Homo sapiens: one gene and its partners. The protein of the gene in region 4 purifies or fractionates together with the protein of the main gene of each other region. This does not show direct contact. Each region holds a gene or a part of one and is shown on either strand. Other genes may lie near its edges. The genes, in order: MECP2, KIF22, POM121 and KPNA4.

What was found.
Region 1: the proteins of KPNA4 (region 4) and MECP2 purify together in Homo sapiens (affinity purification with mass spectrometry; 4 studies listed by BioGRID and IntAct, with this or other methods). This does not show direct contact.
Region 2: the proteins of KPNA4 (region 4) and KIF22 purify together in Homo sapiens (affinity purification with mass spectrometry; 4 studies listed by BioGRID and IntAct, with this or other methods). This does not show direct contact.
Region 3: the proteins of KPNA4 (region 4) and POM121 purify together in Homo sapiens (affinity purification with mass spectrometry; 2 studies listed by BioGRID and IntAct, with this or other methods). This does not show direct contact.

The regions. Positions count from the first base shown.
Region 1 is NC_000023.11:154,094,701-154,101,779, reverse strand, and holds the start of MECP2 (methyl-CpG-binding protein 2), read left to right. Parts: upstream 1-4,062; 5' UTR 4,063-4,114; coding exon 4,115-4,176; intron 4,177-4,810; exon of another isoform or gene 4,811-4,967; intron 4,968-4,998; exon of another isoform or gene 4,999-7,079. UniProt on the Homo sapiens protein: Chromosomal protein that binds to methylated DNA. It can bind specifically to a single methyl-CpG pair. It is not influenced by sequences flanking the methyl-CpGs.
Region 2 is NC_000016.10:29,785,999-29,793,782, reverse strand, and holds the start of KIF22 (kinesin-like protein KIF22), read right to left. Parts: upstream 3,033-7,784; 5' UTR 3,024-3,032; coding exon 2,954-3,023; intron 2,816-2,953; exon of another isoform or gene 2,562-2,815; intron 1,318-2,561; exon of another isoform or gene 1,269-1,317; intron 1-1,268. UniProt on the Homo sapiens protein: Kinesin family member that is involved in spindle formation and the movements of chromosomes during mitosis and meiosis. Binds to microtubules and to DNA. Plays a role in congression of laterally attached chromosomes in NDC80-depleted cells.
Region 3 is NC_000007.14:72,935,060-72,942,097, reverse strand, and holds part of POM121 (nuclear envelope pore membrane protein POM 121), read right to left. Parts: intron 3,509-7,038; coding exon 3,417-3,508; intron 2,763-3,416; coding exon 2,689-2,762; intron 2,252-2,688; coding exon 2,130-2,251; intron 1,685-2,129; coding exon 1,582-1,684; intron 1,282-1,581; coding exon 1,105-1,281; coding exon of another isoform or gene 1,087-1,104; intron 262-1,086; coding exon 1-261. UniProt on the Homo sapiens protein: Essential component of the nuclear pore complex (NPC). The repeat-containing domain may be involved in anchoring components of the pore complex to the pore membrane. When overexpressed in cells induces the formation of cytoplasmic annulate lamellae (AL).
Region 4 is NC_000003.12:160,494,507-160,499,571, reverse strand, and holds the end of KPNA4 (importin subunit alpha-3), read left to right. Parts: 3' UTR 1-4,565; downstream 4,566-5,065. UniProt on the Homo sapiens protein: Functions in nuclear protein import as an adapter protein for nuclear receptor KPNB1. Binds specifically and directly to substrates containing either a simple or bipartite NLS motif.

The DNA of each region.
Region 1 (7,079 bases), on a different chromosome or scaffold from region 4:
GGTCTCACTCTGTCACCCAGGCCAAAGTGCAATGGCACGATCCTGGCTCATTGCAGCCTCAAACTCCTGGGCTCAAGTGATCCTCCCACCCCAGCCTCCCAAGAAGCTGAGATGACAAGTGTGCACAACCATGCCTGGCTAATTTTTTGTTTTTTTAGAGACAGTGGTCTTGCCATGTTAACCAGGCTGGCCTTGAACTCCTGGACTCAAGTGATCTTCCCACCTCGGCCTACCAAAGTGCTGGGATTACAGGTGTGAGCCAAGGTGCCTGGCGAGATTTTTCCCATATACCTGTTGGTCATTTAAATGTTTTCTTTTGAGAAATGTCTATTCAGGTTTTTTGCCCTCTCCTAACCTTTTATTTTATCTATCTATCTATCTGTCTGTCTGTCTGTCTGTCTATCTATCTATCTATCTATCTATCTATCCATCCATCCATCCATCCATCCATCCATCCATCTATTTCGAGATGGAGTCTCGCTCTGTCACCCAGGCTGTAGTGCAATGGCACGATCTCGGCTTACTGCAACCTCCACCTCCCAGGTTCAAGCGATTCTCCTGCCTCAGCCTCCAGAGTAGCTGGGACTACAGGTGCGTGCCACCACGCCCGGCTAATTTTTTTTTGTATTTTTAGTAGAGATGGGGTTTCACCATTTTAGCCAGGATCATCTCAATCCCCTGATCTCGTGATCCGCCTGCCTCGGCCTCCCAAAGTGCTGAGATTACAGGCGTGAGCCGTCGTGCCTGGTCACCTTTTTTTTTTTTTTTTTTTTTTTAAAGACAGGGTCTTGCTTTGTTGCCCAGGCTAGAGTGCAATGTGCAATCATAGCTCACTGCAGCCTCAAACTCCTGGGCTCAAGTGATCCTTCCACCTCAGCTTTCCAGGGAGCTGGGACTACAGGTGTGTGCCACCACGTCTGTCTAATTTTTAAATTTTTTTTGTAAAGACGGGGTCTTGCTTCTTGCTATGTTGCCCAGGCTTGTCTTGAACTCCAGTTCTCTGATTTTTAAAAAAAATCATAAGTAGATGTTGAATTTTATCAAATGCTTTTTCTGCATCTATTGAAATAATTATGTAGTGTTTTTCCCCTTAAGTTTGTTAAGGTTGGGTTTCTAATTTTAAACCATATTTGCATTCTTAGGATAAAACTCAACTCGGTTGTGATAGATCATATACTGCAGGATTCAGTTTATTTGTCTAGAATTTTAAAACTTATTTCCACATCTTGTGTCATACTTTTCTTGGCTCATCATAGTAGATATATTAGTCTAGTAAAATAAGTTTGGAGACATTTATTTCTTTTCTGTGTATGATTGGAATTGCCTACTCATTAAAGATTTGGTAGAAGTCATCCATAAAGCCCTCTTGGTCTGTTTCTCTCTCTCTCTCTCTCTCTCTCTCTGTGTGCGTGTGTGTCTGTGTGTGTCTGCGTGTCTGTGTCTGTGTGTAGGAGGATGGGTAGCTTTTTAAATACATAGTCAATTTCATTGTGGTTACAGGGATTTTCTGTTTCTAAAGTCGGTTTTGGTAAGCTGTACTTTCCTAGGAATGTATTCCTTTTGCTTATGTTTTCAAATTTACTGACACACAGTGCATAATAAAACCTTTTCATGAGTAACATAATTTACTTTTCTCTTTTCTCTTTATATCCAGCTTGTTAGAGGGTTGGCTTTTGTTTTTCAGCTTTTCAAAGAAGCAGGTTTAAAATTTTCTCAATCCTCTCCATCATTTGTTTCTATTTCATTAAGTTTTATTCATCCTTATTTTTCTTTCTTCTACTTTTGCAGGCTTACTCTGTCATTTCTTTATGGCTTCTTGAATTGGATGTTCAGCGTGATGACTTTTGGACTGCTTTAGCCGCATCTCTATACTTCAGCATCGCACACCCAATGGCTTACTCAACATCTCCACTTTCACACCACTGGGCACCCCAAGCTTAATACAGCCAAAGCAGAACTCTTGATCTGCACCTCTGAAAATGTACTTTTCCTGTAGTTCTCCCCACTATGGTGAAAAGCACCCTTATTTCCCCAGTTGCTCAGGCCCCAATCTCAGGAATCATCCTTGTTTCTTCCCTTGCTCTATGCCCTACATCCAATCCTTTTGTTCAGTTCTGAAAACATATCTTGAATCTCACAACTTCTCAGAGCTGCACTGCTGCCACCCTAGTTAAAGCTACCATCAACTCTTTCTCCTAGACTGTTCCAGGGCCTTGCAACTAGCCTTGTGCTGTAGTTTTGTTTCATCACGTCCAGTTCTCCACTCTACACCTGCAACATAGATCAGACAGCTCCTGGCTCAAAATCCTCTGAGGGCTTCTCATCTTAGAATAAACTCTCGGTTCTGGCCGGGTGCGGTGGCTTACGCCTGTAGTCCCAGCACTTTGGGAGTCCGAGGCGGGCGGATCACTTGAACTCAGGAGTTTGAGACCAGCCTGGGCAACATGGTGAACTCCCATCTCTATCAAAAATACAAAAACTTAGCCAGGCGTGGTGGTTCGCATCTGTGGTCCCAGCTACTTAGGACGCTGAGGAGGGAGGATCGCTTGAGCTCAGGGTGGACGTTGCAGTGAGCCAAGATTGCGCCACTGCACTGCAGCCTGGGTGACAGAATGAGACCCCATCCCCACCCCCCCCAAAAAAGAATGAACTCCCAGTTCTCATAGTGGCCCCAGCTGCCTTTCCAATCACATTCCCTACCACTCTCCAGCAACACTGACTTCCTCGTTAGTCCCCAACATGCCAGGCATAGTCTCTCCTCATGTCCTTTGAACTTGCCTGGAATGTTCTTTCCCCAGATATTCATATGAGGGAGTAAAATGAGGGTGAAAACCAGCAGATATCTAAATAGCACCCCCTTCACTTAGTTTATCTTTCTCAAAGCCCTTATCACTATGTGAAATGATATATTATACTTATTTGTATGCTAGTATGAATCTTCCCGGCAAGAATGTTAGTTTGCTGTCTGTTCAGTACCGTGCATCCAGAGCCTGGAAGAGTGCCTGGCACATAGCAGGTAGTCAATAAATGAATGGGGGCAAGCAGCCAAATCAGAATCAGGTTTTCTTGCTAAGCATAGAACTAACAGAAGGATCATTGAATGGATTGGATAATGACTGGCATCAGGGTAAGGTCCCCTTAACAAACACTCCTGTCCTGAACACCTGGTTAGCTAACAGTTTTCTCATACTCTTATTTTCCCAAAACACAATTGCTGGATCTCAGCTCCAAATCAACTCTTCTAGGAAAGTGAAAAATTGCTGGATCTCAGCTCCCAAATCATATCTTCCAGGCAGAGCTAACATTGCCCCTTATTCACACCTCCACCAAACCATCTGATCCAACAGTGACAGGTGTCACGAGGCCTTGGCATGCACTCTCTTCCCCCGCCAGAGTTCTGCGAAAGCCAGGGTTGCGATTTGTTGTCAGTTTATTCCCCGCCTCTATGAGAGTGTGAGCACTGGGCAGGCTCGGATGAAATAATGCATTGAGTAGGCCTCTGAAACCAAGGCCCCTCAGCTGGGGCAACGTCAGGCTCCAGGGTGGGCAACTTTGCTGCTTCTGCCGAAGATAGTGATATTGAGAAAATGTGGGTGCAATGAAACGCTTATTGCAGCGCACTCGGTGCATCTGTGGACAGAGGGTCAATCGCCCCTCAGAGCAGCGCAAACAGGCGTCCCAAGCCTAGGCCTTCACTTGCCCCAGCATCCGCAAGGGTCCATTAATCCTTAACATTCAAATTCCGCCCACTAAACCAGTCCCTCCGCGCCCAAGCCGCCTCTTTTCCCCAAACGACGGCCGAAAGCAGCCAATCAACAGCTGGAGGGGTCCGCCCCCTTTTCCCTGGCCGAAATGGACAGGAAATCTCGCCAATTGACGGCATCGCCGCTGAGACTCCCCCCTCCCCCGTCCTCCCCGTCCCAGCCCGGCCATCACAGCCAATGACGGGCGGGCTCGCAGCGGCGCCGAGGGCGGGGCGCGGGCGCGCAGGTGCAGCAGCGCGCGGGCCGGCCAAGAGGGCGGGGCGCGACGTCGGCCGTGCGGGGTCCCGGCGTCGGCGGCGCGCGCGCTCCCTCCTCTCGGAGAGAGGGCTGTGGTAAAAGCCGTCCGGAAAATGGCCGCCGCCGCCGCCGCCGCGCCGAGCGGAGGAGGAGGAGGAGGCGAGGAGGAGAGACTGTGAGTGGGACCGCCGTGGCCGCGGGCGGGGACCCTTGCCGGGGGGCGGGGGTCAGGGGCGGGACGTGGCGCGGGAGGGGCCCGCGGGGTCGGACGACACGGCTGGCGGATGGCGTCCCTCCTCTCTACCCTCCCCCTCCCGCCGCCGCCGGTGGCGACTCTCCCCTCGGCCCGTCACCCCTGCTCGCGGGTGACCGTCCTCGGCGCGGCCTCCCTGGAGCCGCCTTCGCCTGACGCCCCTCTTCCTCCCGCCCTCGACGCGCATCCCGGCCCCCGGCCCCGCGGGCGCCCCTGTCGCCGGGGCTTCGCCTGTCGGGGCTGCGCGCGCTCCTGCCCTTCTCGGGGCTTTGGGCCGCGGCGCCGTCGCGCGCCCGCGGCCCCGGCCTCTCCCTGGATCGCGCTCTCCCCCTCCCTCCCTCGCGCGCCCCCTCTCCCGTTACTCGGCCCCCCCACCGGCGCGCGTGCGCACTTCGCCTCCCGTCGGGAGAGTGCGCCACAAGGGCTCCTGAGCTCTCACCCCCATCTCTGGGCTTTGCCTCCCCCTCCTTCTCGCCCATTCCATGAATTTCTGCCCCCCGCTACCCCCCCGCGAGCGAGTAGGTCCACCGGCTCCTTTCCCCATCTAGCAGGAACAAGTAGGTGGGGATTATTATCCACAAAAGGGACTAGACATTGTGTTCTGGGTCCCACAACTCATCATAAAGAGGTGGTTATAGTTCCCATCAGGAGCCGTGGGTAGGGGACTGTGCGTCCAGCAGCACCCGAGGCTCTTCGGCGCCAGAGGCTCTAAGGTGCGAGCGTGTCCCCAGGGTGCTCAGAGGTTCTTTGGAGTGCTGTGGCCTCGGAATGTGAGCACCCTCCCATCCTACCCTCCCCTTCGCCGGCGATCTTCCAGTTACATAAGTGGAGTGGGACATAGTAGGTAACGGGCTCTCATCGCCCTGGAGCGCTCGGGATCACCGGTACCAGATGGGGCAAGTTCATCGCGACGCTGTGGCTCCTGTTAATTGTGCCTGAAAGGTTATCCTCTGTTCAGTTTGGTCATGACCGAATCACCCAAACTGAAACTCAGATGACTTTTATATGGCAGTGGCAATGTTTCTGTGGTTTTGCACTAAAGACTTAAGGTCATTATGAAGAGTGTAAAAGGATTGCTGTCGCAGGGGAGACCGTTTATGACATTGCTAAGTATGGACCCCGAGGGGGAAAAAGCTCATTCTGGAATTGCTCTGTGGCGGTTGCTTCTGTTGCGAGTGTGTTCGGGTGTGGGTTGGTCACAGCAGAAATGGGCTCCACCACAAAATTGATATTCCTGACTCATGGTCAGGCAGATGTGTGCTTCTGGTTATTTTTCCAGGAACAGGAATGGGCTCTGCCGAGCCTTTCACACGTTGTGTCTCTGCTGTGCGGGATCAGTACCCCAGACTGTGAGATAACAGGATCGAATTCAGGGGTTGGTTGGTGATCCAGGAACCATACCTACTTGGATGTGATACTGAGTGGCCTAGACGTTGTAGGACTCTCATAAGTTTTAGACATTTTGTTATACTGTAAAAATGAAGCATATACGGCCTCAGTAGTAACATTGCACTAATAGGTAATTATTACTCTAGAGAATTTTGGGTTCCATGGCTGGAATGTTCATCAGTATCTCAGCAATTTCAGTTAATAACCAGATTAAGCTGACCTCTTGAGTCTTTTGAAATCTGCTGGGTCCCTATAATAAGACAGGGTCTGGATTTTTTAATCTTTTGGGAATTTCCACCAAGGATTTAGGGAAATAGGCTTTTATGGGCTTTTCAGGATTTCTATTTCAAATCCCAATGAGGAAGTCTAGGAAACACTTGCTTTTATTTTCTTGCCTGAATATGTCAGAACCTTAAATCACCCAATCAATCTAGAAGTACTACAGTTGATTAAAGTAAGTCACCACAGGTCACCCATTCGTGGCAGGTCAGCTAGGTGGCTGATCACTGGAATACAGTCATATCCCCAGGCATACACACGAGCCTCACTTGACGATCCCAAAGTTTGTACATCTGAGCTTGAGACGTGACAAGTTGAGGTCTCTGCTTTGTTCTTCATAGTTGGCAGTTTGTCTCCTCGGGTGCCCCTCCGGTTAGCTGTTTATCATACGTCTAGCCCTATCAACAGTGCAGGCAGCTTCCAGAGTATAGTTTTCTCTGCAAAGTGCCTGGTGGAGGGGTACCTCCTTTTCCATTGTCCTAATGGCTCCACTGGGCTTCCATACCAGCCCTTTCCAGTGTCTTAACAGCTCAAAGAAACCCATCTGTGGCTTTCTTGTTAGCACTGGCCTATCACACCTTCCTATTGCCTGTTAACTAAAATTTTGCCTGGAATGCTTTAAGCTTAGAGTACTGGGTCTTTGTTTCACCCGATTGATAGGAGAGTGTCATGCAGTCAGCCGAACTCCGACTTCTGTGCTGTTTAAATCCTTAGGTAGGTCTGGGGCAAGGCACAAACCACTGTGTATTCAAAGGGTTATGGTGCTTGCATTCTGTGTGTATATGTTTGTAATTTCCAACCAGAGTCGTTTCCCGTGCCTGCCCTGCCTCTGTGCAATCTAGTCTAGTAGGGTAGGGAGGCAAGCTGTGGAGTTTGAAAAAAAAAAAAAAAAGCTAGATGAGTTTAATAGGCTGTTACCCCCTCCAGAACATTCCTCCCATGTGGAGATGAAACGAGAAGTTCATTTCTTTAACCTAAAATAAAGAACAACAGAGATAAAATTGTTAGTTCCTTATTGGAGCCTGGTTTCCATTGCTAATGTACCTGCTTGGGACTCTGCATGATAAATGACGTGTCCTGGAACCTGAAATCTTTTATAAAGGTTAATATCAGCAGAAATCTTTTAATTAGCTAAGAGCAGCTTGTTCTCAAGCTGC
Region 2 (7,784 bases), on a different chromosome or scaffold from region 4:
CCAGCATTTCTCAACTTCAGCACTACTGACATTTCGGGCTGGCTAATTCCGTTGTGGGGCTGTCCTGTGCATTTAGACTGTTAGCATATGCTTACTAGATGCCAGTAGCATTCTCCACCCTCACCCTCAAGTTGTAACAACTAAAAATCTCTCCAGACATCTCCAAATGTCCTGTGAGGGACAAAGTTGCCCCGAGCTGAGACCACTCAGATTCATTTCATAGGCAGGTCACCCGCCCTCTTGGCTTCAGTAACATCTTACAGCTGATAAGTCCTATTGCACGTTCTGCACAAGAGCTCTCAACTGCAGCCCACGTTCTGAACGGCTGCCCTGACGGCTCCTTTTTTTTGAGACAGAATCTCACTGTCGCCAGGCTGGAGTGCAGTGGCGCTCTTGGCTCACTGCAATCTCCGCCTCCCGGTTCAAGCGATTCTCCTGCCTCAGCCTCCCGAATAGCTGGGACTACAGGTGCACGCCACCACGCCCAGCTAATTTTTGATTAATTTTAGAGACAGGGTTTCACCATGTTGGCCAAGATGGTCTCGATCTCTTGACCTCGTGATCCACCCACCTTGGTCTCCCAAAATGCTGGGATTACAGGCGTGAGCCCAGCCGACGGCTCCTCTTAAACTCCACCTGTCCTAAACTGAACCCTCCTTCCCCATCTCTCTGCAGCCTCCTCCTTTGATCTCTGATGTAAATGAATGGCACCAACCCCAAAAGTGGGAGTCTTTAACTCCAACGTCTCTTACCTCCCACATCAGTTCATCATTAACATCTGTCAAGTCTATCTCTTTAAATCTCTCTTGAACAAGTCCACTTCTCTCCACTCCCACTGCACTACCTCTGCCCAAGGTCATGGTCTTTACAGCCTTCCTTGCTGGTGGTAGCAAGGTGTCTCCCTGCCCTCTAGTCATTCCCTCTGTTTCCTTCCTTGCAGTGTAAGTTACCAGTCATGATGAATTTCCTTCACTTCCTACAAAACTCCAAGTTCTCTTGCACCTTTGGATTTTTGTCCACGTTAATCTCTCTCCCTAGAATATCTGCATTGCTCCCCACCCCACCCTGGAGTGACTAAGGTAAACACATTTTAACTCCTCTTAAAAAACAAAACCAAAAACCCTTTCCTGGTAGACACTAAGGCTTTATCAGGTGCAACCACAGCTCATGTTAGCCCCTCCATAAGCATTTGTCACACCCCACTATTGCGTGTTTGTCACTTTCTCCACCTGACTGCCAACTGTGAGAACAAGTTTTATCCTGCTCACCTTTCTAACCCCAACACCTGGCGCAGAGTAGGCCCTCAAGAAGTATTTGCTGAAAAAAATTAAGATTTAGTGAATAAACTACTAATCACTGGCTTGTTCATTTCCATCATGAAAATGGCTCACGGCCATTCCTGCCCCAGGGCTCACAGTCCAGGGTAGGAGGGAAGAGGGGAGGGCCACATGTAAACAATTATTTACTGCACAAGAGTCTAGCCCTTTCATGATAAAAGCAACCTTGAGCTTGGACCAGGCTAGCAATTATTAATTTTCCCTTCTTTCACAATTCCTAAATTTCATTCACTCTTCTCCCTTTTATTGATGAGGAAATTGAGCTAAGAGAGCATCTTACATCATAAATAAGAAAACACTTGCTGTTCTTGTCTTCTTAGTCAAGGCCTGGCAAACTCCTATCCAACCTTTGAAACCCATCTCAAGTATCATTCACTCCCTTAATGAAGTCCTCCCAGAATACTCAAGGGCTTACTTCAGATTCCACACCCTCAGTTTATACACATCTCTCATTGTGTTTCGTATTACATCTACGTATGTGACACTCTATTGAAACAGACTGTAAATTCCTCGAGGAAGGGACATTATTCATTCAGGCATTTTCATATCTACCATGCACCGGACACAGTGCATCTTCGAAGGGTAAGGGGAGACTGTGCTCAGCCAGCAGGGATAACATGTACTTGGGCATAATGGTTAAGAGCAGAGGTTCTACACTCAGACTCCTTGAGAGCGAATTCAAGCCCCAATATTTACTAGTTGTGTTAACTCTGAACAAACTAACCTCAGTTTCCTGTGTAAAACAAAGACAGTAATAGTAACAACCTGATAGCATTGTGTGGACAATAAATGGTTCACCACCATAAAATGCCTACAACTGTGCCTGGCACATAGCAAGAGCTCTACATGTGTTAGGCATTCTCCTAAATGTCTGTTTCCCCACGAGGCTAACGAGGGCTCCAGTGAATTACTATGGCGCTCACCATCATCACTAACGAGGATTAAGTCTCCGGGTTAGAGAGGCACATGTAAACAAATACTCACATACAAGATTTTGGGTGTCCTAACAGCCTTTCCAACCCTAAAATAGCATTCACTTCCATGCTAGAGTGAAAGGAAATTTTAGTCTTTTATTTCGTTTTCCTGTAATCGCAGAGCATCTTACGCTGCCAACTCAAACCCAGCAGCAGCCGGGTCTGTTCCTCAGCCCGTCCTCTTGCATCTCTCAGGGATGTCTCTGCACCCAAACACCATGTCCCACACAGAACCCTTCCCAATACACGCCTCCGGCTCCCTTCTTCTCGTCCTCGTGGCTAGAGCGTCCGCCACTCTTCTCTTGCTTATTCAGGTGATCTCCAGGGATGAGGCCATGACCCCCGTTTCACAGACGAAGAAACCGAAGCTCACAAAGAAAAAGTGCGCGGGGTTCAAGCCAAGAGCCTGGACCGGAGACCCGAGTCTACTGACCCAAGGGGAGAGCAGGAAACAGGGAGAAGGCAGGAGCCAGGCGGGGCGACCGGCTCGCGACCCCACACTCTCACCGTCCCCCTCTCCCCGCCCCTGCGCCATGGCCGCCTCTCCGCGACAACCCGCAGAGCCTGGACCACACTCCGACACATAACTCCCACTAAACTCCAGACGTCGGTACCCGCCTTGCCCAGGCCGGGCTCAAGTACCTGAGATCGCCGCCGCTGAAGCTGCCGCCATCTCGCGTCGCCTCTGCTGCGTCGAGCCGCCCGCGGCCATTCCACTCCCTCCTTGGGCCCGCCTCTCCCATTCGAATTCCCCGGTGCCCCGCCCCCTCTCCCAGGTTCCACCAATCAAGACTACGCGCCGCCGGAAGCTGCTGCGTGTGGGTCGCCACTATCCCGCCTTCCAGCGCTCGCCTCCGGGTCCCCAAGAAAAGGTTCCCCTGGTCAGGACGCATGCGCGCGCGTGGGCCGCGCAGCCGTTGATGTCTGGAAGCGCGCTGCGATACAAACCCCTACGCAGGGATGTTGGCGACGGTGGCCGCTGGGGGAGCTGCTCAGCGCCGCCCGGCACTGGGCTCCCTTTCCCTTTACTTTCTGCAGTTTCTTGCCTCCGTGGGTGGTTGGCGCGTCTGCGGAGCCAGGGTCGTTGTGTGGATCGTGGGACTGCAGCCCCAGCCAAAGGGCTATCACGTCTGGTCGGTTCTGTAGATCTGGGCCCCAGGGGCTGGACTCTGGGCAGTCACGTTGCAGTCGCTGCCTGCTGGGCCCAAGGCCACTGTAGGTCCCCTCGCGTCCGTGTCAGCCCAGGAGAGCAGCTTGGATGTTCCTGTCTTTATAACTTGGCACTCAGCACGTCGGCGAAGCGTGGAAAACGCTTAGTCTGTGATTCAGTCCCACTCACCCACGGTTCCGGTTCCCAGTCCTTAAGAGTACAGCAGTCCGTTGAGTAGCTCTCTGTCCTTTCTGAAGGGTTGGCTAGGGACGGTCATTCCACTTTTGAGCACCAGGTAGGTAGGGCCCAGGTTTAGACATTATGTTCCACCCTGTTGAACAACAAAACAAAACACGGGCCGGGCGCGGTGGCTCAGTCCTGTAATCCCAGCACTTTGGGAGGCTGAGGCGGGAGGCTCACCTGAGGTGAGGAGCTCGAGACCAGCCTGGCCAACATGGCGAAACCCCGTCTCTACTAAAAACACAAAAATTAGCCGGGGATGGTGGCACGCCTGTAGTCCTAGCTACTCGGGAGGCTGAGGCAGGAGAATCGCTTGAACCCGGGAGGTGTAGGTTGCAATGAGCCGAGATGGTGCCACCGCACTCCAGCCACGGCGCCAGAGTGAGACTCCGTCTCAAAACAAAAAACACAAATCTTAGATCAGTGTTTCTGAAACGTTTTGCCTTGGGATCCCACTACAGTTTTTAAAAATGAGGCCTCCAAAGATGTTTTGTGTATATGAGGGTTTTTGTTTTTTTGTTTTTGAGACGGGGTTTCACTTCCATCTCCCAGGCTAGAGTGCAGTGGCTCAATCTCGGTTCACTCCAACCTCTGCCTCTTGGGTTCAAGTGATTCTCCTGCCTCAGCCTCCCGAGTAGCTGGGATTACAGGTGTGCACCACCACGCTCAGCTAATTTTTGTATTTTTATGGAGACAGGGTTTCACCATGTTGGCCAGGCTGGTCTCAAACTCCTGACCTCAAGTGATCCACCCGCCTTGGCCTCCCAAAGTGCTGGGATTACAGGTGTGAACCACCAGGCCTGGCCGTATATACTGTGTGTGAAGTGAAACTAAATTAAAGTTGACATTAATGAATTTAAAAATTACAGTAAAAAACCCATAGACATAAAAAGGACATCTAAGTAGTGGTTGCCAGGGGATGGTGAGGGGCTGAGGAGCTGGCACTACAGCAATAGATATAACGAGTTTCTTTTGGGGGTGATGGAAATATTAAATATTTTGGAATGAAGTAGTGATGATGGCTGCGTAACGTAATAAACATACTAAAAACCAGAGAGGTGTGCACTTTTTTTTTTTGAGACATAGTCTCTCTCTGTTGCTCAGGCTGGAGTGCAGTGGCGCAATCTCAGCTCACCGTAACCTCCGCCTCCTGGGTTCAAGCAATTCTCCTGCCTCAGCCTCCCGAGTAGCTGGGATTACAGGCATGCACCACCGTGCATGGCTGATTTTGTGTTTTTAGTAGAGACGGGGTTTCTCCATGTTGGTCAGGCTGGTCTTGAACTCATGACCTCAGGTGATCCATCCGCCTCGGCCTCCCAAAGTGCTGGGATTACAGACGTGAGCTACCAAGCCCTGCCTAGACCTCCATCTCTTTTTTTTTTTGAGACGGAGTCTCGCTCTGTGGCCCAGGCCGGAGTGCAGTGGCGCCATCTCGGCTCACTGCAAGCTCCACCTCCCGGGTTCACGCCACTCTTCTGCCTCAGCCTCCCGAGTAGCTGGGACTACAGGCACCTGCCACCACGCCCGGCTAATTTTTTGTATTTTTAGTAGAGACGGGGTTTCACCGTGTTAGCCAGGATGGTCTTGATATCCTGACCTCGTGATCCACCCGCCTCGGCCTCCCAAAGTGCTGGGATTACAGGCGTGAGCCACTGTGCCTGGCCTACCTCCATCTCTTAAAAAATAAAATTAGCCAGGCATGGTGGCACACACCTATATTCCCAGCTACTTGGGAGGCTGAGGTGGGAGGATTGCTTAAGCCCAGGAGTTTGAGGCTGCAGTGAGCCGTGATGGTGCCACTGCACTCTGGCTTCAGTGACAGAGGGAGACCTTGTCTCAAAGACACACAAAAAAACTAGATTCTCATATCTGCTTCTGCATTCATGCTGTTGTGATGTCACATATAATATAGTATTTTGAATACTCCACTATATACTTGAGAAACAATGCAAGAGAAGTCAATTGGTATCTTAGTTTTATTATGAAAATAGTTTTGAACTTGTAGACCCACTGAAAGTGTCTCAGGGACTCCCAGAAGTCTCTGGACCATACTTTGAGAACATCTGACATTGGCAATTGGCAGTTTGGTCTTCCTTGCCTGTCAGAAAAGGCTGTTCAGTTTTCACATTTGTTGTCAACTCCAGATATTTGGTAAGAAACCTGCCAGAAATAGTGAAAAGAGCATAGATCAAGGAGATAGGGCTTCTATGTTTGAATAAACCATTTAGGTACAGGGCCTTGGTGCCAGGCTGCCCAGACCAGAGATTTAGCCTCTTTGTGCCTCCATTTCCTCAGATATTAAAAGGGAATAATGGTTGAAATACCTCCTAGGGTTGTTTTAAGGATCTGCATCTGGCTGGTAGAAATTAGGGTGGTTTGGCCAGGCGTGGTGGCTCATGCCTGTAATCTCAACACTTTGGGAGGCTGAGGCGGGCAGATCACCTGAAGTCAGGAGTTTGACACTAGCCTGGCCAACATGGGGAAACCCTGTCTCTACTAAAGACACAAAAATTACCCCGGCGTGGTGGCACACACCTGTAATCCCAGCTATTCAGGAGGCTGAGGCAGGAGAATCACTTGAACACAGGAGTTGGAGGTTGCAGTGAGCTGAGATTGCACCACTGCACTCCAGCCTGAGGGACAGAGCAAGACTCCATCTGAAAGAAAAAAAATTAGCCAGATGTGGTGGCATGTGCCTATAGTCCCAGCTACTTGGGAGACTGAGGCAGGAGGATCGCTTGAACCCAGGAAGTGGAGGTTGCAGTGAGCTGAGGTCATGCCTGTGCACTCCTGCTGGGATGACAGAGAAAGAAACAATTGATTTTTAAAAAATAACTTCCAGGCCGGGTGCAGTGGCTCACGCCTGTAATCTCAGCACTTTGGGAGGCTGAGGCAGGCAGATCATGAGGTCAGGAGATCGAGGCCATCCTGACTAACACGGTGAAACCCCGTCTCTACTAAAAATACAAAAAACTAGCTGGGCGTGGTGGCGGGTGCCTGTAGTTCCAGCTACTCGGAAGGCTGAGGCAGGAGAATGGCGTTAACTCGGGAGGCAGAGCTTGCAGTGAGCCGAGATGGCACCACTGCACTCCAGCCTGGGTGACAGTTGGAGACTCCTCAAAAAAAGGCTGCTCACGATGGCTCACGCCTGTAATCCCAGCACTTTAGGAGGCCGAGATGGGCGGATCACAAGGTCAGGAGATTGAGACCATCCTGGCTAACACGGTGAAACCCCGTCTCTACTAAAAATACAAAAAATTAGCCAGGTGTGGGGCGGGCGCCTGTAGTCCCAGCTACTCGGGAGGCTGAGGCAGAAGGATGGCGTGAACCCAGGAGGCGGAGCTTGCAGTGAGCCGAGATGGCGCCACTGCACTCCAGCCTGGGCGACAGAGTGAGACTCTGTCTCAAAAAAAAAAAAAAAAAAAAAAATTCCAAACTATGTCTTTAAAAGAAGCAAAGGAGGTCAGATGTAGTGGCTCATTCCTGTAATCCCAGCACTTTGGGAGGCTAAGGTGGGAGGATAGCTTGGGTCTAGGAGTCCAAGACCAGTCTGGGCAACCTAGTGAGACCCTTCTCTACAAAACATTTTAAAATTAGCCAAGTGTGGTGGCGCATGCCTGTACTCCCAGCTACTTGGGAAGTTGAGGTGGGAGGATCACTTGAGCCCAGGAGGCTAGGTTGTGGTGAGCGGAGATCATGCCGCTATTGTATTCCAGCCTGGGCAAAAGTAAAACATAGAGTTTGTGCCATAAAAGATAATTAGTGGGTCTAGGCCTGGCGCGGTGGCTCATGCCTGTAATCCCAGCACTTTGGGAGGCCGAGGCGGGCAGATCACGAGGTCAGGAGATCGAGACCATCCTGGCTAACACGGTGAAACCCCGTCTCTACTAAAAATACAACAAATTAGCCAGGCGTGGTGGCGGACGCCTGTAGTCCCAGCTACTCGGGAGGCTGAGACAGGAGAATGGCGTGAACCTGGGAGGCGGAGCTTGCAGTGATGCACTCCAGCCTGGGTGACAGAACGAGACTCCGTCTCAAAAAATAATAATAATAAAATAAAATAATAATAATAATAATTAGTGG
Region 3 (7,038 bases), on a different chromosome or scaffold from region 4:
GCTTGGGGGCGGGGGACGGGGCAGATGTGGCTTGGGGTTTGGTAGCCGTCTCTGCCTGAAGGGTTGGAGGTGCCTTGGTGTCAGTGGCTGGTACCATGGATGGAGCAGGGATCAGCCCCAGCAAAGTGGTCGGGGGTTTGGAGTCAAAGGAGGGGCTGGGGAGCAGCCCTGGCGGCCCTGACTGTGATAAACCCAGCGGGGGTAGGAGGCTGGGTGTCTTTGGAGGTGAGAGGGCCTCAGTGGTTGCTGCTCCAGCAGATTCTGGAAGAAGAATAGAAAATGTGAAATTGGAATAAACACTTCAAAGATGATGGTATTCAGTATTTCAGTGTCCTCCCCACGCCTACCACAGAGCCTGGGATCCAAGAGTCAGTCAATAAACTCAGCTAAGTCTACACTACAGGCCTGTACAGTAAATCAAGGAAGTGTTATTTCTACCTCACAGATCATCAGACAGAAGGGGATAAAATGGGGCCTAAATGGGGGCCTAATGTGTAGAGACTAAGACAGTCCAATTGTCTGAACTCTGAAGTTCACGTATGAATCTAGATATACTTTATTTGCCTACTAAGCTCACCTGCCAGGCGCTAAGAGCACACAACTATGAATGGGGAAGTCTCTGCCCTTGAGCAGGGAGGGTGCGTACGAACCCCAGGTTACCGTCTGATAAAGAGGTGTGCGCGCGCAGTGCCGTGAAGGCCTGGGCCGGGAACACCAGCAGCCCTCGAAGTGCTGGAGGGAAAGGAAGCAGTGCTGTTCTGGACCAGTGGTTCTGACAGGCAAGGATATCCTGACCACGCCACCACATTCACACTTCAGAGGTGCCGCACAGGGAAGATCATTCTCATCTGACAGATGAGGAAGGCGAGGCTCAGGGCAGCTACGAGCCAGGCTTCAGATCCTGAGCGTCGCAGCACCCCTTCTCTAACACTTCCTGATGCGGGCTCTGGCGCTGTTAAACGTGGGCCCGCTCCGGTGTGCTGAGCCAGGGTGCGTTCGGCCTGCAGAGCAATCTCCAGCGACTGACAGGCACGACGCCCTTATTCCAACTCAAGCCGGGGATGCTGCTCAGAAGGCTGGATCCACGGCCCCACTCCAGCTCACCTGGGCAGGGTGGCAGGCTCGGGGGAGTCTGCATCTTCTTCAAGCTCTCTAACAGTGGGTTGGTGCTTGGGGCCAGGAGGGAGGTGGGTGGGGAGGCAGGTGCAGCAGCAGGCAGGGTAAAGGTAAATGAAGGCTGAGTGATAGGTGGGGTCTCAGTGACAGAGTTCGAGGCAGCATCTAAGAAAGAAAGAAAGGTGAAGCAGTCCTGGCTTGTCTGGGACTTCTTTCCACATGCCTGTCGGAGAGCAGGCTCTCAGCACAGCTCATGGAGGAATGCCTGCCCTCAATTGCAGTGGTCCCTGCTGTCCAGTTCCCGTGAAGACCAACACGGATATCTCAGGTGAGAAAGACCACAAGAAAACATGGAACCCTACTTGGGATTTTCCCAGAGAAACCCATTTTTTCAAACACCAAAATAAAACCAAAGAAAACAGACACCTGAAACCTCTCCAGTGTGCAACAATCTGTGCTCCTTACCGCTCTTGTCCTCCAAGGCCTGGTTGAACCACTGTAATGAAGCCTTCTTCTCTAAGTCTAGGTCCTCGGCAGTGATCGAATAGCCAAGCTGGGGAGGTGGAGGCTACCAAAGTGAAAAAGAAGAAGTCAGGCCAATCAGAAAAAACGGGAAGGCTAGGCATGGTGGCTCACACCGGTAATCTCAGCACTTTGGGAGGCCAAGCCAGCTGGATCACTTGAGGTCAGGAGTTTGAGGCCGGCCTGGCCAACATGGTGAAACCCCATCTCTACTAAAAACACAAAAAATCAACCAGGCGTGGTAGCAAGCACCTGTAATCCCAGCTACTTGGGAGGCTGAGGCAGGAGAATTGCTTGAACTCAGGAGGCAGAGGTTACGGTTAGCCAAAATCGAGCCACTGCACTCCAGCCTGGGTGACAGAGGGATGTTGTCTCAAAAAACAAAAACAAAAATAAATTAGAAAAAAAATCAGAAGAAACTTGTCCTTAGCGTTCCTAATACTTAGGAGAGCTAAGCCGGGGAGGGCAGGAGTAGATGGACAAGACCATACCAAGGTCAGCTGTTCCCCTCGCCGAGAAGGCAGCAGCTGAACTTTCCGCTTACGCTGCCCAGAGCTGCCAGGTGTAGACTGAGAATTCGAGTTTTGTTTCTTCCTTGGGGTTGTATCTGCAGCTAAAGAAAGAAATCAAGACTCGTTTGCTTCCTTCCCTCTTCCAGAAATGGATGGTTGTGTCTACCCACTTCGCATTTCACATTGAGTTTTCAATGGGTATCTCTGAAAAGATTCAATCTTCTATGGTTTGGTTGCTTGGATGGTGTTTGCAAGATTAAGGCGCGCACACAAACCGCTTACTGTGCAGTAATTACTGGGATCACCCACAGGTGACTCAAACTGAGCTTACCTCTATCCAATCGTTAGTCCCTGTCTGTAGCCTTTCTCCCTCATCAGACTATAAACTTCTGAAGGAGAGGAAATCTCTCTCTTTGTATCTAACATGCCTTAGACATAGCAATGCTCAAGACCTTTTTTCAATAGGTATTAATCTCTACATCCTCCACAAACACCTCCACCACCAACAGCAGCCCCTCCTCCTGGCTCAGCAACCTACCCTTTTCTCCCTGGGACTCCCTGTCTGCTGCCAATGGAGTTGAAGAACTGGAATGATGACACAGCTCCTCTTCTCTGTCAGGAAAAAAGGAACAATTTAGTCTAGAAAGGCTTCTTGGCTGAAGTATTAAATAATTTCTCACACCCTCCTAACTACCAAGTGGCCAATGTCTAAAACAACCATCATTTAAGATCTCAGTATGCCAGGATAAAAAAAGTCAACAGGAAATTCCAACAGAATGAAGGGAGGCTGTTCACAGAGGCCATGAAGACAGCTTTTGTCTTAAAACAAGCACAAAACAATAATCTTCAAACCTTACTTACAACCTATCAAGTCCCTGGGAGTTCTAGACACAGATGTGATCCCTGAGGGAGTGGCATTCCAGCCAACTGCAAGCACCTAGGGGGTCAGCTCGAGTCAAGAACCTGAAGGCGACTGCCCGCTGACTTGACTCTCTCTGCTCTCCACTCTGCATGGCCTCTGTGCTTGCACCCGATCCCTCATGCTGGAGTGGGAGGCGACAGCCAGAGGCCACTGGAGTCAGTATCCAAGACTGTAGGGATGACAGCACTTCGGGTGGGTACTGCATTGTACCTCTCAGGGACTTAAGTTTCTTTGATTCTCCAAGTCACAGCAGCACAAAGCCTAAGAGCCAGGTTCGTTTCCCACCTTTCCTCACCCCCGCCTGTCCACGCAGCAAATGAAAACTGCAGGAGAATGCCAAGTACCTTATTTTCTTTGCTGGCCTCTCCGGTGTCTGGGAGCGGGAGGAGGCTGGGCTAGAGAAGGGTGATGAACTGGGGCCATTTCTCTTCCAGAGCTAAAAATCAAGAGGGACATGACTGAGCCTGCTGATAACTTAGCATCTGACCCTCAACACGACAAAGTCTCTTTTCAAGTGACTAAAAAAACATTCTTTATGGTTAAATGGTTAGTCATGCCTGTAATCCCAGCATGCTGGGAGGCCAAGGTGGGAGGATCGCTTGAGCCCAGGAATTTGAGCCCAGCCTGGGTAACATAGCGAGACCCCTGTCTCTACAAAAAAACTGAAAAATCAGTTGGGTGTGGTGGTTTGCATCTGTGGTCCCAACTACTCAGGATGCTGCAGTGAGCTGAGATTGCCCCACTGCACTCCAGCCTGGGTGACAGAGTGAGACCCTGTCTCAAAAAAAAAAAAAGAAAAGAAAATGAAAAAAATTTGTTTGTGAAGAAAGACCCCTGAAAAGAAAGTCAACTGCCAGTATTAATTATGAAAGCAAAAGAAGAAAAGTCTATAAAAGTAATGGAATGCGAATAAAGGTAGAAGGGATGGACACACTTTTGCATATATTAGGTGGAACGTTAGCCTCAGTAATGAAGAGCCAGGACACATTCAAACCTGTGCCAGACTGTCTACGGAGAGGATAGAAGTAAATTAAAGAAGATAACCCAGTAAACTAATTTAGTCTTGCTTCTATTAAATTTTCTATTTTAATTTACTAACTTCATTTTAAAAATATGCTGTCGTAACGTTTATGACTTTTGCAACAACGATGGCATTTATCATCATGTGATGATTATCCATACATCTGCCTCTTCCACCAGGTGAGTTCTTGACAGCAAAGACGGTGTTTTCATCTCTGCTTCCTCCACAGACCAGCAGCAAAGTAGATGGCACAGAGCGGACACTGCAAATAGTCTCGTAAGTGCTGAGCCTAATTACAAAGCCACTAAACTGTCACCTCAGACCGTCTTTCCTACTTGAAAAGCTGCTAGTGATTTCTTACCCAGTACCAGCTACATCATATAAGTACAAACAGGAAGCCAGCAATGCTTAATAAGAGTTCAAAAAGGGAAAAGAGGAAGCTTCAGACAAGTGGTAAGCAGCAGAACAGTTCAGTGAGGCCACCATCAGGAAGCCGGGCCCAGGAGGAGCTTGAGAAGACTGCTCACGGCAATAACAGTTGAAGTTACGCTCAAACAGCAAGAAAGGCCAGAGCACAATGGTTTAAAAAACATGGGATTACAGGCATATAAAAGAGCAGAATACAAAAATTCATCAAAGGGATCCAAGGATTGAATATATAAGCGGCATTTTCAATCACTTCAGATCCCTGACACTACCTCACTGGTTCTCAAAGGACGGCTCAGTCACCTGTGGAACTTTTTTTTTTTTTGAGACGGAGCCTTGCTCTGTTACCAGGCTGGAGTGCAGTGGCGCGATCTCAGCTCACTGCAACCTCCGCCTCCCTGGTTCAAGCGATTCTCCTGCCTCAGCCTCCCGAGTAGCTGGGACTACAGGAACATGCCACCACACCCAGCTAATTTTTGTATCTTTAGTAGAGACAGGGTTTCACCATGTTGGCCAGGATGGTCTTGATCTCTTGACCTCGTGATCTGCCTGCCTTGGCCTCCAAAAGTGCTGGGATTACAGGCGTGAGCCACCACACCTAGCCACCTGTGGAACTTTAAAAGCACATAGATGGCCGAGTGCGGTGGCTCACACCTGTAATCCTAGCACTTTCAGAACTGAGGCAGGAGAACTGCTTGAGCCCAGGAGTTTCGGACCAGCCTGGGCAACATAGCAAGACCTTACCTGTAGTTAAAGTAATAAAATTAAAACAATAAAAACCATAAACCTTGCATTTTTCTTCACAATGTGCTCCAGACACTGAGGGATACACATCACTGAGCAAGCAAGGGTCAGAAATGCCAAAGGGGCCAGACGAGGTGGCTCACACCTGTAATCCTAGCACTTCAGGAGGCTGAGGCAGGAGGATCACCTGAGGTCAGGAATTCCAGACCAGCATGGCCAACATGGTGAAACCTCATCTCTTCTAGAAATACAAAAACAAGCTGGGCACGGTGGCTGACGCCTGTAATCCCACCACTTTGGGAGGCCAAGGTGGGCGGATCACGAGGTCAGGAGATTGAGACCATCCTGGCTAACATGGTGAAACCCCGTCTCTACTAAAAATACAAAAAATTAGCCGGGTGTGGTGGCAGGTGCCTGTAGTCCCAGCTACTTGGGAGTCTGAGGCAGGAGAATGGCTGGGAGACAGAGCAAGACTCCGTCTCAAAAAAAAAAAGGAATACAAAAATTAGCCAGGTGTGGTGGTGCATGCCTGTAATCCCAACACTTTGGGAGGCCAAGGTGGGAGGATCACTTGAGCCCAAGAGTTTTGAGACCAGCCTAGGTAACATAGTGAAGTCTCATCTCTACCAAGAAAAAATAAAGAAAAAACAGAAATGCCAAAGGAGACTGTAATGATTAGCTAGGACTGGAAGACAACTGAACAACTGGTTTAACAATTAGGGGAAAAAAGTATTACTCCTCTACTTCATTGACTGTACATACACACTCATTTCAGATCTAACAAGACAAGGATGTTTATTATCATGTCTATTCAACTTAAAGTCCTAGCCAAGTGCAGCAAGACATAAACAGAATAAGATTGCAGAGGAAAGGAAAAACTCATTATCATAGACCTGAGTGTATGTACTAAAATCCTAAAGAACATACAGATTTAGCAAACTTTCTGAATACAAAATCAGTTGTATTTCTACACACCAGCACAGCCAATCACATTTTGAAGGCACTATTTAGAATAGCATATATGAAGGCACTATTTAGAATAGCATATACCTAGGGCCAGGCGCCGTGGCTCACGCCTGTAATCTCAGCACTTTGGGAGGCAGAGGCAGGTGGATCACCTGAGGTCAGGAGTTTGAGATCAGCCTGGCCAACAAGGTGAAACCCTGTCTCTACTAAAACTACAAAAATTCGCCAGGTGTGGTGGCACGTGCCTGTAATCTCAGCTACTCGGAAGTCTGAGGCTGGAGAATCACTTGAACCCAGCAGGTGGAGGCTGCAGTGAGCCGAGATTGTAAATCTAATAAAAAAGAAGTAAAACCTCTACAGAGAAGAAATAGAGATGATGTAAATAAATGAAGGAGGCAGGACATGGTGGCTCACGCCTACAATCCCAGCACTCAGGGAGGCCAAGGTGGGAAGATTGCTTGAGCTCAGGAGTTTGAGACCAGCCTAGGCAACATAGTGAGACTGTGTCTCTATTATAAGTTTTTAAAAATTAGCTAGGTGTGGTGATGCATGCCTGTGGTCCCAGCTACTCAAGAGGCTGAGGCAGGAGAATCGCTTGAGCCTGGGAGTTCAAGGCAGTAGTGAGCTATGATCATGTCACTGCACTCCAGCCTGGGCCACAGAGCAAGACCCCTTGTCTCAAAAGTTAAATAAATAAATAACGACATTCCATGTTCATAGATTAGAAGTAAACAAGGTCAATATTGTAACAATGTTAATTCCATCCAAAGTAATCAGTAGATGAAAGGCAATCCCAATCAGTATCTCAG
Region 4 (5,065 bases):
TGGGAAGGGCTTTTCTGTCTCTGAAATTGATTCAGTACAGTTGACAGTTCATCACGGTTACCTGGTTAAACACTTTTTTTTTTTTTTTAATTCTCCAGTGATCTAGGAAATTGTTTCATTTTTAACACAGGCTTATTTCTGATGGGGATGGGGGCATAGAATAATATGCCTAATAAGCTAAACGTTCTTAACGTTTCATGTCTTAAACTGTCTTTTTGAACATTGAGACCACCTCAAGTGCTGTAAAAATAAGAATGTTATATTAGGGGTGTGTGAGACGCCCTAGTCTAAAATCTATCTTTAAATATATTTCCTTTGTAATTTTCAAAGACTTCAGTAATTGTGTGTTATGGTGGAAATAATACTTTCCATTGGTCCACATTGCTCTGGACCAAACCTGGAGCATTTCTATAATTAGAGCTATCTATGAATCATTAAAAATGGATCTAGAATAATTTTGGGGAGAGGGAGTGTATCATTTAGTTTAGGCTTACCTCAGCAGCACTTCATAGGGTGAGGAGTTGTTTGTTTCTTTAAAGGTATAACTGCATTGTAAAATGACTGGGTTTATTGTAACAGTAATTTATGGGGGCACCCTTTTTGGATTCTCCATTGCCTCAGTTTCCTCAAGGAAAAAGTTACAGAGATTAAGCTAAATTTTGAATTTAGAGAATAACTGCTGTGTAATTTTGGTATAATTACCATAAATTTAGTGTCTTAAAACACAACATACATTATTTCACAATTTCTGTAGGTCAAGAGTGTAGTTAGGTTTTCTGCTCAGGGTCTCACAAGGCTGCAATAAAGGTGTCAGCCAGAGCTGCAGTCTTATCTGAAGCTAGGGGGTCCTCTTTTATGCACATATGGCAAAATCCATTGCCTAGCAACTGAAGAAATCATGGGAACTTCTTCAAGGCCAGCAAGAGAATCTCTGATCTCAGGGAAGGCCTTAAGCGCTTTTTTAAAGGTCTCACCTGATTAGATCAGGCCACCTACCCACCAGGGTGATCTCCCTTTTGATTAACCCAAAGCCAAACTGATGAGGTACCTTCATTACCCCTGCAAAATCCCTTCACCTTTGCCCTGCATTGTAGTCCAATCACAGGGGTGATACGCATCATATTCAAAGATCCTGTTCACAGTCAAGGGAGGGGGTTATATGGAGTATGTATACCAGGGAATCTTGGGAGCCATCTTAAGAGTTCTTCCTATGACAAGGACTCAACTATTTAGAACTGGAACAATTTACAAGTGATAGCCTTATATAGTTATCATAGCAAGCTTATTTGGGGATCAAGGTTGCCTCTGAGAACCTAATGAAAACTGGACCAGCTTCCCCAAAAAGTGTATATACATGGTAGTTTTTCATACAGTTTTAGGGGATTCATAAGAGTCCATGAATTACAGTCTGTCCCAACCCTTCCCTTTAGATGATGAGTTGTTGAGGTGACTTGCCCAAGGTCACACAGCTACTAAGGGCCAAATAAAGCCCACATCTCAACTCCCATACTGCCCAGGGCTTCTAATTACTATTCTAAAGGTAATCTAAATTCATTTAAATTTGTGAACCAATGCAAAAAAATGTGAATGTAGCTTTTTGGATATTTTTTTTGTTTACTAAGGAATGGGTAACATTGTTATAGAAGCTTGCCTAAGAGTTTTGAAATTAGTTGACCTTTTTGAGTTTCCAAAATTGAATCTTCCATTGTAGCTATTAAAGTGAACTATAAATAGGCCAACTTTAATTGTTAACTCCTCGGGTTTGGTGGATTATCTACCATTTATATATAAAATTTCAGTTAGAATCCACCATTGGCGTTTTGAAGGCCAAGATAGCTGAGTATCTTATCCTTTTTGTAACTTCTTGATTATTTTACTTATTGGCAAAATTCATTAACTGTCAGCCAATAATTTAATATTATGGGAGGAAAAAATTTTGCCCAGATATCTGAGGCAATACTCCCAAACACTAACAAACTGATGCCTAACAAACTTGACATTTTGAACACTTAAAGTTTTCCCTAAACTTTTTAATAAGCACATTAATAAAGTATGCTTTTAAATATATATGTACAATAATTTTTAAAAGTTGCTGCAAGATGCCTTCAAATCAATATGCACGTTGGTGGCATTAGTGCAGTCTTCTATTTTTATTTTTTTGAGACACAGTCTCGCTCTGTGGCCCAGGCTGGAGTGTAGTGGCGCAATCTCGGCTCACTGCAACCTCTGCCTCAAGGGTTCAAGCAATTCTGCCTCAGCCTCCTGAGTAGCTGGGATTACAGGAGTACGCTACCACGCCTGGCTAATTTTTGTATTTTTAGTAGAAATGGGGTTTCACCGTATTGGCCAGGCTGGTATTGGAATCCTGACCGCAAATGATCTGCCCACCTCGGCTTCCCAAAGTGCTGGGATTACAGGCGTGAGCCACTGCGCCCAACCAGCCTTAATTCTTAATAAAGGAAGTTGAAAAATAATGAACATTGGTAAAACTATTCTAGTGTGATCAGAAGCAAATTTGGACTGTAGTGTCAAATTGATAAAAAACTAAGCACACCAATCATGTATAAGAAAAGTAGATTTAACATTTTTTTCCCTAAACACTTAACCCAGAAGTTAACAATAATCTTGAAAATTCCTTTTAAATCCAGGCCCTTTAGGTGATGGCAGTTTGACTCAGGATGTCCAAGTCCAGTGTATTTTCAATAAAATTGACTTGACAGCTACTGCTCTGGGTGTAAGAGCAGTTGACTGTGAGGAAAAGTAAATGGTTCTACAGATTCTTTATGATCTACCTCCCACCAGAGGACTGCAGTACTCCCTTGTTATTTATATTTTCTGCCCCAATTTTTGCCTTCTCCACAAATTTTATACCTTTTGTAGCTGCCTACTCCAGATTACTTCACCTTTCCAGACTATCAGTTCTTCCACTTTTATTCTTCATAAAGAAAATTCCAATAACCTGTTTCACTTAGGTTTTTCTATTACTCTTCAAGCATGAATCCTAATTTCCCTGACTATATCTTACCTCTGATCTCCATAACTGATGGATTCCTATCCTAGACTATGTTACTCTAATATTACCCAAGATTTTCTCCAGCCTGTTTTTACTCTTACTTTGAAACAGCTGTTTAAAATGACTCGTAATCTGCTTAAATCTACATGCTTTTTGTGGTTCTCAATCCAGTTACCTACCTTCCAGATAATTCCCTCACTGTCCTGTCCTCTCCATTCCTCTGATGTTTAAGCCCTGTGAGCCACCTTTCCCCCATCCTTTGTGCATAGTTACCATTTTACTCTTTCTTGTTGCCCAGGCAGGAATGCAGTGGTGCCATCTTGGCTCACTGCAACCTCCACCTCCTAGGTTCAAGCGATTCTCCTGCCTCAGCCTCCTGAGTAGCTGGGACCACAAGCGTGCACCACCACGCCCGGCTAATTTTTGTATTTTTAGTAGAGATGGGGTTTCACCACGTTGGCCAGGCTGGTCTCGAACTCCTGACCTCAGATGATCCACCCTCCTTGGCCTCCCAAAGTGCTGGGATTGCAGGCGTGAGCCACCGCCTGGCCACCATTTTACTCTTTTTAGGTACAGTAATCTAATATCCAAAGTCTTGGACTCAGCTAAAGAGGGTATTTACCTTAAAAAAAAAAAAAAAAAGACTCCATCTTTTGATTCATAATTGTGGTGGGGGCGGGGAATCAAGACAACCTTAGTCACTTTGGTATTACCATAATTCTTGTCTTTTCAGGGTTGTCCTGTTCAGCTGCATAAAACATCATGTATTCTAGGTATTTCCTACCTTCACTTACATTTTTACTTGCCGATGTGCTGCCTTCATAAATGGGTATATTCCGCCACACATCTAGTAAGCCCCCAATGCAGTACACAATGTGTATCACTGATAAAACTCGCACTTCTGCCATGTCAGTATTATATTCAGTTGAGTGGTCTTTAGCATAGTGGCAGTCCTAGTCATCCTAACCTTTTAGTTAAGGTAAAATTACATATGTTTATAGAACTCATATAGACAAGCTAGTTTTTAAAATCTTCCTTTTAACCAGTTTAGGATGATCTAGGATAGCTAAGTTACCTACATGGTGACTGTTCGGTCTAATTCAGAAACAGAAGTACTAAAAGAATACTAAAAAGTTTTTACCCATTATCTCTATCCCTGTTTTCTTTTTGCAATTCTCAGCTGCAGGGAGCAAGAAAATACACAGCAGATAGGAAATGTTTGTTTGCATCCTGGCTTTCTCAACCGCACTTTACGTCCTTGAATATTCTAGATATTTACTCCTTCAAGAAGTCAGGAGTATATCCAGGCCTACCTATCATCCTTGCCATCCCCATTAACCCTCATTTTTCAGTATGTGTTTTACATTTATGGTTATTTTTCAGTCTATAGTATCTGTTCACTCATTGCTCTATCACATCTGAGTTTCTCCGTCTTTCTTTCCACTAGATTGTAAGCTCCTTAAGGGCAAGGTCGGCATATAAGCAAAGTTCTGTAAACACCGTGAAGGTACCATGAGTTCTATGGGTACTCAATAAATGCTTGTGATAATGATGCAATTTCTCAGATGAACTGATTGTAGTGACTACCTCTAAAAGCCTTCAATCTACAGTTTTTAAATTTGTCTCATTGCATCTGAGTTTTAGAAAGCCTTCGATAGAAAGGGAAGATACTTCATAGCTTGCCAGATGAATGCCCATTTCCTTATTTCCTTTTCCTCACTTTTGATATTTTGCCCAGTGTCTGGTCTGGATATCTGACATCCATAAGGGTATTGAAATGGATCCTTGTGTGGTTTTCAGATACCAGTTATATATATTATGAAGCAGAGGTAACCTAATATTGTCTAACACTATTGATACAGTTTATATTTTGGAAATACTGTATGGATGATTTATTGAAATAACTTATAATAAGATATTTTACAAGGAAATATCCAAACCACAAAGTTAAGTGATTGCTGTTTTGGTCAGTCAGCTATAGTATGAAATTATTAGAATGCTTTGGTTTATTTATGTATGTGAAGTTATTTTATCCCTATGTGCTTCAGTTTC